Linked DNA regions of Homo sapiens: regions 2 and 3 are each reported to be linked to region 1. The links are microRNA targets in miRTarBase. Many come from high-throughput screens and were not tested one by one. Region 1 holds a microRNA gene; each other region holds the end of a gene's coding sequence.
What was found. Region 1 holds the annotated microRNA hsa-miR-6877-3p (CAGCCUCUGCCCUUGGCCUCC, at 2,448-2,468, opposite strand). A microRNA usually pairs through its seed, bases 2 to 8, with sites in the 3' UTR of a target mRNA and lowers its output. Matches are read on the target gene's strand: a 7mer-m8 pairs with bases 2 to 8, a 7mer-A1 pairs with bases 2 to 7 and ends in A, and an 8mer does both.

Region 2: the mRNA of BNIP3L is a reported target of hsa-miR-6877-3p. Seed matches in the 3' UTR shown: 7mer-m8 at 1,652-1,658.
Region 3: the mRNA of PSG4 is a reported target of hsa-miR-6877-3p. The part of its 3' UTR that is shown has no 7-base or 8-base seed match.

What each region holds. Positions count from the first base shown.
Region 1 is chr9:133,050,503-133,054,502 of GRCh38, reverse strand. It overlaps MIR6877 (microRNA 6877), which reads right to left and starts at 2,507; the gene lies at 2,444-2,507. It overlaps GTF3C5 (general transcription factor IIIC subunit 5), which reads right to left. Exons shown (of 11, transcript NM_012087.4): 4 at 3,525-3,720; 5 at 2,339-2,443; 6 at 561-675; 7 at 15-95.
Region 2 is chr8:26,409,670-26,413,744 of GRCh38, forward strand. BNIP3L (BCL2 interacting protein 3 like) reads left to right here. Exons shown (of 6, transcript NM_004331.3): 6 at 695-3,458. The coding sequence ends at 743. Among named protein-coding and RNA genes, the nearest start is that of BNIP3L, 29 kb to the left of the region's middle.
Region 3 is chr19:43,189,703-43,193,777 of GRCh38, reverse strand. It overlaps PSG4 (pregnancy specific beta-1-glycoprotein 4), which reads left to right. Exons shown (of 6, transcript NM_002780.5): 6 at 390-1,076. The coding sequence ends at 406. Among named protein-coding and RNA genes, the nearest start is that of PSG5, 5.2 kb to the right of the region's middle.

The sequences.
Region 1 (4,000 bases):
CCTGGCACGCTTACATGTCTTCTTGACGGTGATGGGGAGGCTGTAGTTGTAGGTGCTGCGCTTTGCTTTGACCGGCAAGTCACTGGGGGCGTAACCTGTAGGCGAGGGCGGGCAAGTCAGGTGGGCGGGCACAGGGCCCGTCGGCACACAACACTGGCTTCACACTGGAGATGGGAGTTGGGTCCATGGGGCCAGCTCCTGAGAGGGCAACCCCAGACTGCCAAGCACGCCACTGCGGTCACCAACACATCTCAGCACTTCCCAGGCAGGGCGGGCACTGATGCTCTCACAAGTGCCTGGCCTGCATCACAGGACCATAGGGCACGTGGAGTCACTTAATGAGGGACTGTGGTTCAGAAACGGGCGGTCAGTGGTGGGGCCAGCACAGAACTAGGACTTTCGTTTCCACGCCATTCTGCATTCAAAAGAGTCTCAGCAACGGGGGCAAAAGGTTTTTTTATTCTTTCCAAATGAAAAGATTCTTACTACAAAAGAGAATGCTAGAAACTGAAAGATAAAGAGAGAGAAAGGCAGGAAGCAAAGCTTTCAGGAATTTTTACCGTGTTTCATTCCACAACGGATTCGGAAATCGAGGACTTGATAAATCTTGGCATCTGGGTTTTTTCGGGGGTCATACCCAAATCGAATCCATAGGCTGCGCCAGGGGCCTGTTATCTGGGACAGAAAAGTGGGGAAAATGTGAGGTGAGGTGAAGGCCCAGGTCCCTGGACGGGCCAGAGCCTACAGTGAGGCAGCAGAAGAGCTCAGGAGCTGGGGACAGGGCTCTGGATGCCCAGCCCTGCTCTGCCACATGCAGGCCCTGTCACCTTGGTGAGGGCACGTGGCCTTTCCAAACCTTGGTCTTCCTGTCAGATGGAGGGAAAAGGAGCACCCTTTCCTGTGGGTTTTTGTTTTTTGGGGGAGAGGGTCTCACTCTGTTGCCCAGGCTGAGTGCAGTGGCAAAATCACGGTTCACTGCAGCCTCAACCTCCTGGGCTCAAGTGATCCTCCTACCTCAGCCTCCCAAGTAGCTGGAACTACAGGCACGAGCCACCACACCCAGCTAATTTTTAATTTTTTTGTAGAGATGGGGTCTCATTATGTTGCCTAGGCTCGTCTCAAACTCCTGGATGCAAGCGATTCTCCCGCTTCAGCCTCCCGAAGTACCGGGATTCTAGGAGTGAGCCATCATGCCTGGCCTCCCATGGTTTTTCAGAGGATTAAATGAGATAGCGCCCGTGGAGCCTTTACCATGGTTCCTGGCACATATTAAGTGCCCAATGTTACTACTGGCCTAATCGATGAGACATCTTCTGTCCCTAAACGGAGCTTTTGAATGGCTTATGTCTAAAAAGCCAATGCCAGCCAGCCGCAGTGGCTCTCGCCTATAATCCCAGCATTTTGGGAGACCGAGACAGGCAGATCACTTGAGGTTAGGAGTTCGAGACCAGCCTGACCAACATGGCGAAACCCCATCTCTACTAAAAATGCAAAAAAAGAAAATTAGCTGGGCATGGTGGCGTGCGCCTGTACTCCCAGCTACTTAGGAGGCTGAGGCAGGAGAATCACTTGAATCCCAGAGGCGGAGGTTGCAGTGAGCAGAGATCACACCACTGCACTCCAGCCTGGGAGACAGAGTGAGACTCCATCTCAAAATAAATAAAATAAATAAAATAAAATAAAATGCCAACGCCAAGCAGCACAGGTCGCTCTCCTGAGCCGGAAGTCCAACAAGGCAGAAGAAATGAGTCTTTCTTGTGTCCTACTGCCTGTTGCAGACCCTCACAGTCATGTCTTACGCTGGCCTCCCCTAATGCTCTGTGAGGCCTGGCAGCGGGGAGGATCCCTTTCCAACCAGCACCTTTGGAACCTCAGTAATGACATGTGTCTTTACATGCTTGTGGATCAAAGGTGGATCTGCCTCCCACTGAACCCCACTCAACACAGGTAGAGGACGACATGGGGCCGCTGTGGTCAGGGGCTGGGTTCTGCAGCCCAACAGGCTGTGGAGGGCGCCCTGGACTCAGGGAGCTGAAACTTTTCTAGCTGGCTTTAATAAGCTGTCTTAGGGATGCTAGGATCGGGGGGCCAGGACAGGGGGGAAGGAAGGATGGGGGTGCCAGGACGGGGGAGGTGCTAGGTTGGGGGCAGGGCAGGAAGGATGAGGGCCAGGCCAGGGGTGGGTAGGAAGGATGGGCCAGGATGGGGGTGGGGCAGGAAGGATGGGGAGCCAGGATAGGGGGTTGGCTGCTCTTACTGTGGCTCTAAGACATCACAGCAGGGACCAGGGACCACATGGGTGGAAACCAAGGCAGGTGGGTGGGCAGCTGACACTTACCATGTAATAGGCTATGAAGGGAAGCAAGACCTTGAGCTTGTCTGGGTGGACGCTGATGTTGGCCTTGACAGCATTTCGGGACCAGATGGGACGGATGTCAAACAGCTGGGGAGGCCAAGGGCAGAGGCTGAGATGAGCACCAGCAGCTTCCACCCTTCGGCCCTGAACTCCCAACATGTTCTGGGCCCCAGCGGCCCCTCCAGAGAGGAGCTGGTAGAGGACAGGGGCTGGACACACAGGGCGTGGCCCTAGGACCTCCTGCTCTCACTAATTCATCCCTTCCCTCAGAAGCCTGGGCTGCATGCCCAGCCTGTGCCAAGTGCAGTTGTGGGGCTGGGTCTCTCAAACGATAAGAGACATGGTCGCTGTCCTCATAGAGCCCACAGCGCGGTGGGGAGTACGGCTCAGGGGGCACATGCTAGAGTCCCAGGGTCCCCATGCTGCCCCAATCTACAGAACAGGTGCCTGAGGTGGGACATCGTCAGGGCTGAAGGGGACAGCCTGGCCCGGGGAGGACTGCAAAGGTCAGTGTGGCCGGAGTGTAGAGGGCCAGGGGGCTGGGGCAGCGGGCCTCACGAGCCAATTCAGGTCAGGAATGTGGGCTGTGCCTGGTGGGCAATAAGGAGCCACTGACAGTGTGCCCCAGTGACTGCTGGAAATCAACAAGACATCCACGTGGTCTCCCACAGGCACACTGCGTAAGGGAAGCGCCGGGCTCCAGGTGGCAGTGGCCTGTGAACCTGATGCTCATGCCAGTGGGGACGCAGGACTCCACGGCACCCGCAAGCCCGGGGAAGGAGGGCTGCCTGGCAGCACGGTTCCAGTTCTAACGGTAAGAAAGTGCTGGGCCTGGCACACTAGGTGCCCCACTGGCTTGGCTGCAATGAGTGAATGGAAGAATAAGAGCTCAGTGGATCCCAGAGCTCCACGTTTATGTCACATCTGAACAACGCACGCATATTTTTCTTAAGAACTCTAAGAAGCATTTTCAACCTTGGGAATGTAGAACTTATACCGACACAGCCTTTAGACATGGCATCTGAAGGTGAGAAGTTCCCATGCACTAAGGAATGGGTAAAGGTCAGTGCAGCCAACCCCACAGCCAGGAACAGGGAGCAGCTGGGTAAACACGGGAAGCCAACAGAGAGGCTGGAGCCACCGGGGCCAGGCGCAGCGCAGGACTTGCCTTCCTCAGCTCCTCCTCCACCTTCCGGTCCACGGGGTTAGTGCAGACTCTCCTCCACGTCTGGGCTGCAGCCTCCAGTGGCTGCTTGGGCACCTCCTCATCCTCAAAGTTGACAAAGATGGCATTGTGGGGGCGCCGGGCTCTGCTCAGGCCAATCAGATTCTCACCTGAGATGGGGGGATTGTTGTAGCCTTCCCTGGGGGCAGAGAGTACAGGTGAGAACAGGAGCACCAAGGCCATCCCAGGCACCCGCTGGGCCAGACCAGGCAGGGAGCCCAGAACCCCCCAAGGCCCACAGCCACCGTGTGCCTCTCTCTGGACATCTGTGCTGGGAAAGGACCCCAGAGTTGGCTGCTAAAGGAACCTGTATTCACAGAGGAAGAGACGCAGCCACAACTGCCTATGACAACTCAGAGAAACCCTGGGGCCTGCAGCTCTCAAACTGGGGAAAGGCCAAAAGGTCCTAGAGGCTGGAG
Region 2 (4,075 bases), not on the chromosome of region 1:
CTTGCCGTCTCTCTTTCAGTCATCTTCAGATTGTTTGTCTTGGCTGTAAGTATAACTATTGCTATAGATGAATGTAAAAAGAGTGTTTAAAAAGTTCGTTGCTTTAATTGCACTGGAGGTGAAGCTAGTTACATACTTTCCTTAACTTCCCTTCTGCTTTTGCTGTTGAAGAGGCCAAATACTTTCTTGGCATGAAAAAGTATTATAAGGCCCCTAATCCTTAGGAGTTATTAGTAAGAGCTGTCTTTAAAGCACTGGCAGCTTTTAAGGTTTTTTTTTTCTTTTGTCCTACATAGAGCACCAGAATAATTTCACATATTACTATATTTTTGTGTCTGAAATGTCAGTAGAACCTTCTGTCCACCAAAGAGGAACATCTTGAAGGAGTTGGGCTGCTTTATTTACTCTGTGGAGGGATCTGTTCTCTCTGGCTTTACTTTGTCTAATCACTACCCCTTTGCTGTCGAGCCCCGATATTTAATGAGTAAACAAACTCATATAAAACCAGTTTGGCCGGGCTGGTGACTGGTTTTAAGAAAGTCAGTGATGATTTCACGGTGTTTGGGGAGCGGTACCCACAAACCTTTAGAGCCTTTTACAAAGACTGAAGAGTTTTAAGTAGAGTTCAACCTGTGGACAAGCTGGTATAGAACTGTTGAAACAGGTGAAACATGATGCTTCTGCTTCCTTTCAGCATCTATATTGGAAAGCGACTGAGCACACCCTCTGCCAGCACCTACTGAGGGAAAGGAAAAGCCCCTGGAAATGCGTGTGACCTGTGAAGTGGTGTATTGTCACAGTAGCTTATTTGAACTTGAGACCATTGTAAGCATGACCCAACCTACCACCCTGTTTTTACATATCCAATTCCAGTAACTCTCAAATTCAATATTTTATTCAAACTCTGTTGAGGCATTTTACTAACCTTATACCCTTTTTGGCCTGAAGACATTTTAGAATTTCCTAACAGAGTTTACTGTTGTTTAGAAATTTGCAAGGGCTTCTTTTCCGCAAATGCCACCAGCAGATTATAATTTTGTCAGCAATGCTATTATCTCTAATTAGTGCCACCAGACTAGACCTGTATCATTCATGGTATAAATTTTACTCTTGCAACATAACTACCATCTCTCTCTTAAAACGAGATCAGGTTAGCAAATGATGTAAAAGAAGCTTTATTGTCTAGTTGTTTTTTTTCCCCCAAGACAAAGGCAAGTTTCCCTAAGTTTGAGTTGATAGTTATTAAAAAGAAAACAAAACAAAAAAAAAAGGCAAGGCACAACAAAAAAATATCCTGGGCAATAAAAAAAATATTTTAAACCAGCTTTGGAGCCACTTTTTTGTCTAAGCCTCCTAATAGCGTCTTTTAATTTATAGGAGGCAAACTGTATAAATGATAGGTATGAAATAGAATAAGAAGTAAAATACATCAGCAGATTTTCATACTAGTATGTTGTAATGCTGTCTTTTCTATGGTGTAGAATCTTTCTTTCTGATAAGGAACGTCTCAGGCTTAGAAATATATGAAATTGCTTTTTGAGATTTTTGCGTGTGTGTTTGATATTTTTTACGATAATTAGCTGCATGTGAATTTTTCATGACCTTCTTTACATTTTTTATTTTTTATTTCTTTATTTTTTTTTCTCTAAGAAGAGGCTTTGGAATGAGTTCCAATTTGTGATGTTAATACAGGCTTCTTGTTTTAGGAAGCATCACCTATACTCTGAAGCCTTTAAACTCTGAAGAGAATTGTTTCAGAGTTATTCCAAGCACTTGTGCAACTTGGAAAAACAGACTTGGGTTGTGGGAACAGTTGACAGCGTTCTGAAAAGATGCCATTTGTTTCCTTCTGATCTCTCACTGAATAATGTTTACTGTACAGTCTTCCCAAGGTGATTCCTGCGACTGCAGGCACTGGTCATTTTCTCATGTAGCTGTCTTTTCAGTTATGGTAAACTCTTAAAGTTCAGAACACTCAACAGATTCCTTCAGTGATATACTTGTTCGTTCATTTCTAAAATGTGAAGCTTTAGGACCAAATTGTTAGAAAGCATCAGGATGACCAGTTATCTCGAGTAGATTTTCTTGGATTTCAGAACATCTAGCATGACTCTGAAGGATACCACATGTTTTATATATAAATAATTACTGTTTATGATATAGACATTGATATTGACTATTTAGAGAACCGTTGTTAATTTTAAAACTAGCAATCTATAAAGTGCACCAGGTCAACTTGAATAAAAACACTATGACAGACAGGTTTGCCAGTTTGCAGAAACTAACTCTTTTCTCACATCAACATTTGTAAAATTGATGTGTTATAGTGGAAAATAACATATAGATTAAACAAAATTTTTATCTTTTTTCAAGAATATAGCTGGCTATCTTTAAGAAAGATGATATATCCTAGTTTTGAAAGTAATTTTCTTTTTTCTTTCTAGCATTTGATGTCTAAATAATTTTGGACATCTTTTTCCTAGACCATGTTTCTGTCTTACTCTTAAACCTGGTAACACTTGATTTGCCTTCTATAACCTATTTATTTCAAGTGTTCATATTTGAATTTCTTTGGGAAGAAAGTAAATCTGATGGCTCACTGATTTTTGAAAAGCCTGAATAAAATTGGAAAGACTGGAAAGTTAGGAGAACTGACTAGCTAAACTGCTACAGTATGCAATTTCTATTACAATTGGTATTACAGGGGGGAAAAGTAAAATTACACTTTACCTGAAAGTGACTTCTTACAGCTAGTGCATTGTGCTCTTTCCAAGTTCAGCAGCAGTTCTATCAGTGGTGCCACTGAAACTGGGTATATTTATGATTTCTTTCAGCGTTAAAAAGAAACATAGTGTTGCCCTTTTTCTTAAAGCATCAGTGAAATTATGGAAAATTACTTAAAACGTGAATACATCATCACAGTAGAATTTATTATGAGAGCATGTAGTATGTATCTGTAGCCCTAACACATGGGATGAACGTTTTACTGCTACACCCAGATTTGTGTTGAACGAAAACATTGTGGTTTGGAAAGGAGAATTCAACAATTAATAGTTGAAATTGTGAGGTTAATGTTTAAAAAGCTTTACACCTGTTTACAATTTGGGGACAAAAAGGCAGGCTTCATTTTTCATATGTTTGATGAAAACTGGCTCAAGATGTTTGTAAATAGAATCAAGAGCAAAACTGCACAAACTTGCACATTGGAAAGTGCAACAAGTTCCCGTGATTGCAGTAAAAATATTTACTATTCTAAAAAAATGAGAATTGAAGACTTAGCCAGTCAGATAAGTTTTTTCATGAACCCGTTGTGGAAATTATTGGAATTAACTGAGCCAAAGTGATTATGCATTCTTCATCTATTTTAGTTAGCACTTTGTATCGTTATATACAGTTTACAATACATGTATAACTTGTAGCTATAAACATTTTGTGCCATTAAAGCTCTCACAAAACTTTTCCTGTCAGTATATCATTTTTCTGTCGCACCTGTTGCCTGGGAGTTTCAGGCGATGAGGCCTCCTCGCCTACACACAGCCTTCCAGTCATCTGGCTTCCCCAGCAGTGGAGTTCCTAACAGTGCTCAGGGTGTGAACGGTGTTCTGTGGGGACAGTCACCGCAGTGTGAGCATTCGTGAGTGCCTCGGGACTGTGGCATTCAGAGCATTTGCCTCCAGGTAGTGGCAGGAGGGCGCTCACGGGAGGAGTGCTCAGGAAGTACAGGAGAGAAGAAGAGTGTGCCCTGATGGAAATGACAGTGGGACACCAGTGAAAGTGGATCCAGAAGGAACTGGAAGTTCCACGTGCCTGGAAAACAGGATGGATACAGAGGAAACTGAAAAATGTAGGTTAGTACTGAACCTAATTGAAATGTGTGTGCCCTCCCAGGGGTCACACTTCATCATATAGTTAGCTGGGTTTACTTCTTTTAAACCAGGAGGTGATTTAAGATGTAAATTTTAGACAGTCAAGCCATCTGGTGAGAGAGTACCAGAGGAGATCAATCAGTTCTCTAGGCGAGGAGCTAGGGCCTGTCCTGGGCTGTCACCCTGAGGTTGGCAGTGGTGGGCCAGGA
Region 3 (4,075 bases), not on the chromosome of region 1:
ACTGGGATGTTATATTCAAGAATATAGATAGAATGAACCAATATGAACTGCAGGCAAAGTCTGAAGTCAGCCTTGGTTTGGCTTCCTATTCTCAAGGGTTTTGTAAAAGTTTAATCTGAGAGTCCTTATAAAAACTTAGAGCAAATAAAATTCTAAAAGAGCGCCTACATGGTCTATTGCTACTCTTGCTGCACTTATGTAAAGAATCAGACCACGTTTGAAGAAACTCAACCTATTTTGCAAACAAACTTATTCTACTGAAATTATCATTGGTAAAACTAGAGATGCCCATAGAGAGAAAAATTATGTGGAAAATAAAAACTGTAGTACACCGGTTATGAGATTGCAGCTCTGTTCATTGTTTCTGTGTTTTTATTATCCACCTGTAGACTGGATATTACCCTGAATTCTACTAGTTCCTCCAATTCCATTTTCTCCCATGGAATCACGAAGAGCAAGACCCACTCTGTTCCAGAAGCCCTATAAGCTGGAGGTGGACAACTCGATGTAAATTTCATGGGAAAACCCTTGTACCTGACATGTGAGCCACTCAGAACTCACCAAAATGTTCGACACCATAACAACAGCTACTCAAACTGTAAACCAGGATAACAAGTTGATGACTTCACACTGTGGACAGTTTTTCCAAAGATGTCAGAACAAGACTCCCCATCATGATAAGGCTCCCACCCCTCTTAACCGTCCTTGCTCATGCCTGCCTCTTTCACTTGGCAGGATAATGCAGTCATTAGAATTTCACATGTAGTAGCTTCTGAGGGTAACAACAGAGTGTCAGATATGTCATCTCAACCTCAAACTTTTACGTAACATCTCAGGGGAAATGTGGCTCTCTCCATCTTGCATACAGGGCTCCCAATAGAAATGAACACAGAGATATTGCCTGTGTGTTTGCAGAGAAGATGGTTTCTATAAAGAGTAGGAAAGCTGAAATTATAGTAGAGTCTCCTTTAAATGCACATTGTGTGGATGGCTCTCACCATTTCCTAAGAGATACAGTGTAAAACGTGACAGTAATACTGATTCTAGCAGAATAAAACATGTACCACATTTGCTAATACTGTTCTCTTAAAATAATTTTAAAAGAATGGGGTGGGCCCTCCCATGTGTCCAGGCCAGGTCTCTGAACAGAATCCTCCATCTGCAGTAACAATGCCTAAGAAGATGACATGGACTTGGTCCTGATATGCAGCCATTCCTGTATACCCTTCCCCTGCTGCAGGGCTGTACTAGCCCAGGGCCCAAATCTTCAGCTGCAGAGCTGAGAGAGAACATGGGATACCCAGCATCCCTTACCTTCTTCCAGTTCACTGCAGTGGCTACCGGCATGGCCCATTTATCCCTGAGGACACCCATCTGCTGACCCACAGTTTCTAAGAGTCAGACTTTCCTGGCTTCTCTGAGTCCCAGCTACTTTCACTCTGCTGAATCCTTCTTCTCCCCACAGGTGTCATTGACTTAGCAGACACCTCTTTCAGCTGCAGCTAACAGGTAAGCCAAGACCCAGACCCCAGAGAATAAACAAGGATTTCAAAACCTACTGTGTCCAACGGAGATGCCCACTTGTGGGCGGCAAGCCACCCAGGTGCCGAGGCAAGAGACCGAGGGCACGAGCTTTTCCAGTATAATAAAATATAAAAGGAGAATAGTTATACCAGATATAGATCTTAGATATGATTATATAGGAATATCATTAATCATTAGTTGGTAGCAATTACTCTTTATTCCAATATTATAATAATCCTCGCTCTATGATTATAACCTAGGAAAAGCCAGGTCATAAATAGATAGGAGCTGGGGAGACATAGTGAGAAGTGACCAGAAGACAAGATTGCGAGCCTTCTGTTATGCCCAGACAGGGCCACTAGAGGGCTCCTGGTCTAGTGGTAATACCAGCGTCTGGGAAGACACCTGTTGCCAAGTGGACCATGGACTAGAGGTACCCTCAGTGTCAAGGAAAAACACCCACTACTTAGCAGACCGGGAAAGGGAGTCTCCCTTTCCCCGGGGGAGTTTAGAGAAGACTCTACTTCTCCATCTCTTGTGGAGGGCCTGATGTTAGTGAGGTCCAACCACAGTTATCCGGAGGCCTAACCGTCTCCCTGTGATGCTGTGCTTCAGTGGTCACACTCCTAGTCTGCCTTCATGTTCCATCCTGTACAGCTGGCTCTGCTGTTTAGTTAGCAGTAGCAAATTAGTGAAAGTACTAAAAGTCTCTAATAAGCAGAAATAATGCTGTAAGCTCTTTCTCCTCTCTCTCTCTGCCTCAGCTGCCAAACAGAGAAGGGCCCCCTGTCCAGTGGACACGTGACCCATGTGGTCTCACCTATCATTGGAGATGGCTCACACTCCTTATCCTGCCCCTTTGTCTTGTATACAATAAATATCAGCGCAGCCTGGCATTCGTGGCCACTACCGTTCTCCACGTCTTGGTGGTAGTGGTTCCCTGGGCCCAATTGTCTTTTCTTTTATCTCTTTGTCTTGTGTCTTCATTTCTACAATCTCTCATCTCTGTACATGTGGAGAAAAACCCACCGACCCTGTGGGGCTGGTCCCTACACCCACTGTACAGAGACATAAATAAGTAGAGATGTATACAACTCCCCAACAACACGGTGTCCTAAAACAATGTTCCCTTCCCCCCTCATCGTGGAATTTACTGTCTCTCACCACATGGGCAAGTGCTTCCAGGGTCTCACAATTCTTCCACAAGAGGCAATGCACACTTTAACATAGCACTTCAGCAAATAAAGTGGTGACAGTTTACCTACTTAGAATAAGTTTCTTGAAGGTTCTCCCAAATTTCCCCCTGAAGAAGACAGAAAAGGCTTTCCCAATTGTGAAACACTGGCCTTCCCACCTTTCAAAAAGGACCACTGAATAGCCAAAACAATCTTGCCGAAATAAATTGTAGGACTTGAACTTTCTTATTTGAAAACTGACAAAGTAGTACAATTATTAAAACAGAAGCTGCTGGCAAAAGATAGACATAAAGACAAATGGGATAGAATTGAGAGTCTAGAAATAAACCCTGACACTTATGGTCAATTACTCTTTGAAGGAGGTATCAAGACAATTTAATGGAGGAACAATTCTCCTTTCAAATGATAGTGCAGAAACAACTAGATAACCACATGCAAAACAGTTAATTTAGATAATTCTACCTCCCACGATATCAAACCATTCTCTAAAAAATTGATCACTGAGTTAAATATAAGACCTATAACCATAAAAACATCTTAAAATAAACATAGACGTAAGTATTGATGATCTCAAATGTGCAGTGGATTCTTAGATATGATACAAAAGCATGAGAAACAAGAAAAAAAGATAAATTGGGCTTTATCAAGATGTAAGCCTTTTGTACATCAAAGGAAATTATCAAGAAAATAATTAATAGGCACAGAATGAGAGAAAATATCTGCAAACCACATATAGGCAGTTTTCATGTCCAGATAATATCAAGAACTAGCTACAACTCAATAACAAAAGGACAAACCATCCAATTTATAAATGGGCAAAAGACTCAAATAGACATTTCTTCAAAGAAGATATACAAATAGTCAAGAAGGACATGAAAAGATACTCAACATCATTAGTCATTAGGAAAATACAACGTCAAAGCTACAATGAGACACCAATCACACCTACAAAACTGGCTACCATTCTTTTACAATGTTAAATAACAAGTAGCAGCATTATGTAGAATTTCGAATCCTCATATATTGCTGGTGAGAATATAAAAATGTACAGCCACTAGGAGAAACAGTTTTCCTGTTCCTCAAAAAGCTAATCATAGAATTCTCATTTGAAACAACATCCATTCCTAGGTATATACCCAAAAAATTAAATCCAGGGACTCAAACAGGTACTTGCATAGGAATGTTGATTGCAGCATTATTCACAAAAGATAAAATATGAAAACAATCCAAGTGTTCATCAACACATGAATAAATAAATATGGTGACACATACAACAGAATGTTAATCTGCCATAAAGAGGAATGAAGCTCTGACACCCGCTGGAACATGCATGGACTTTGGAAACATTATGCTAA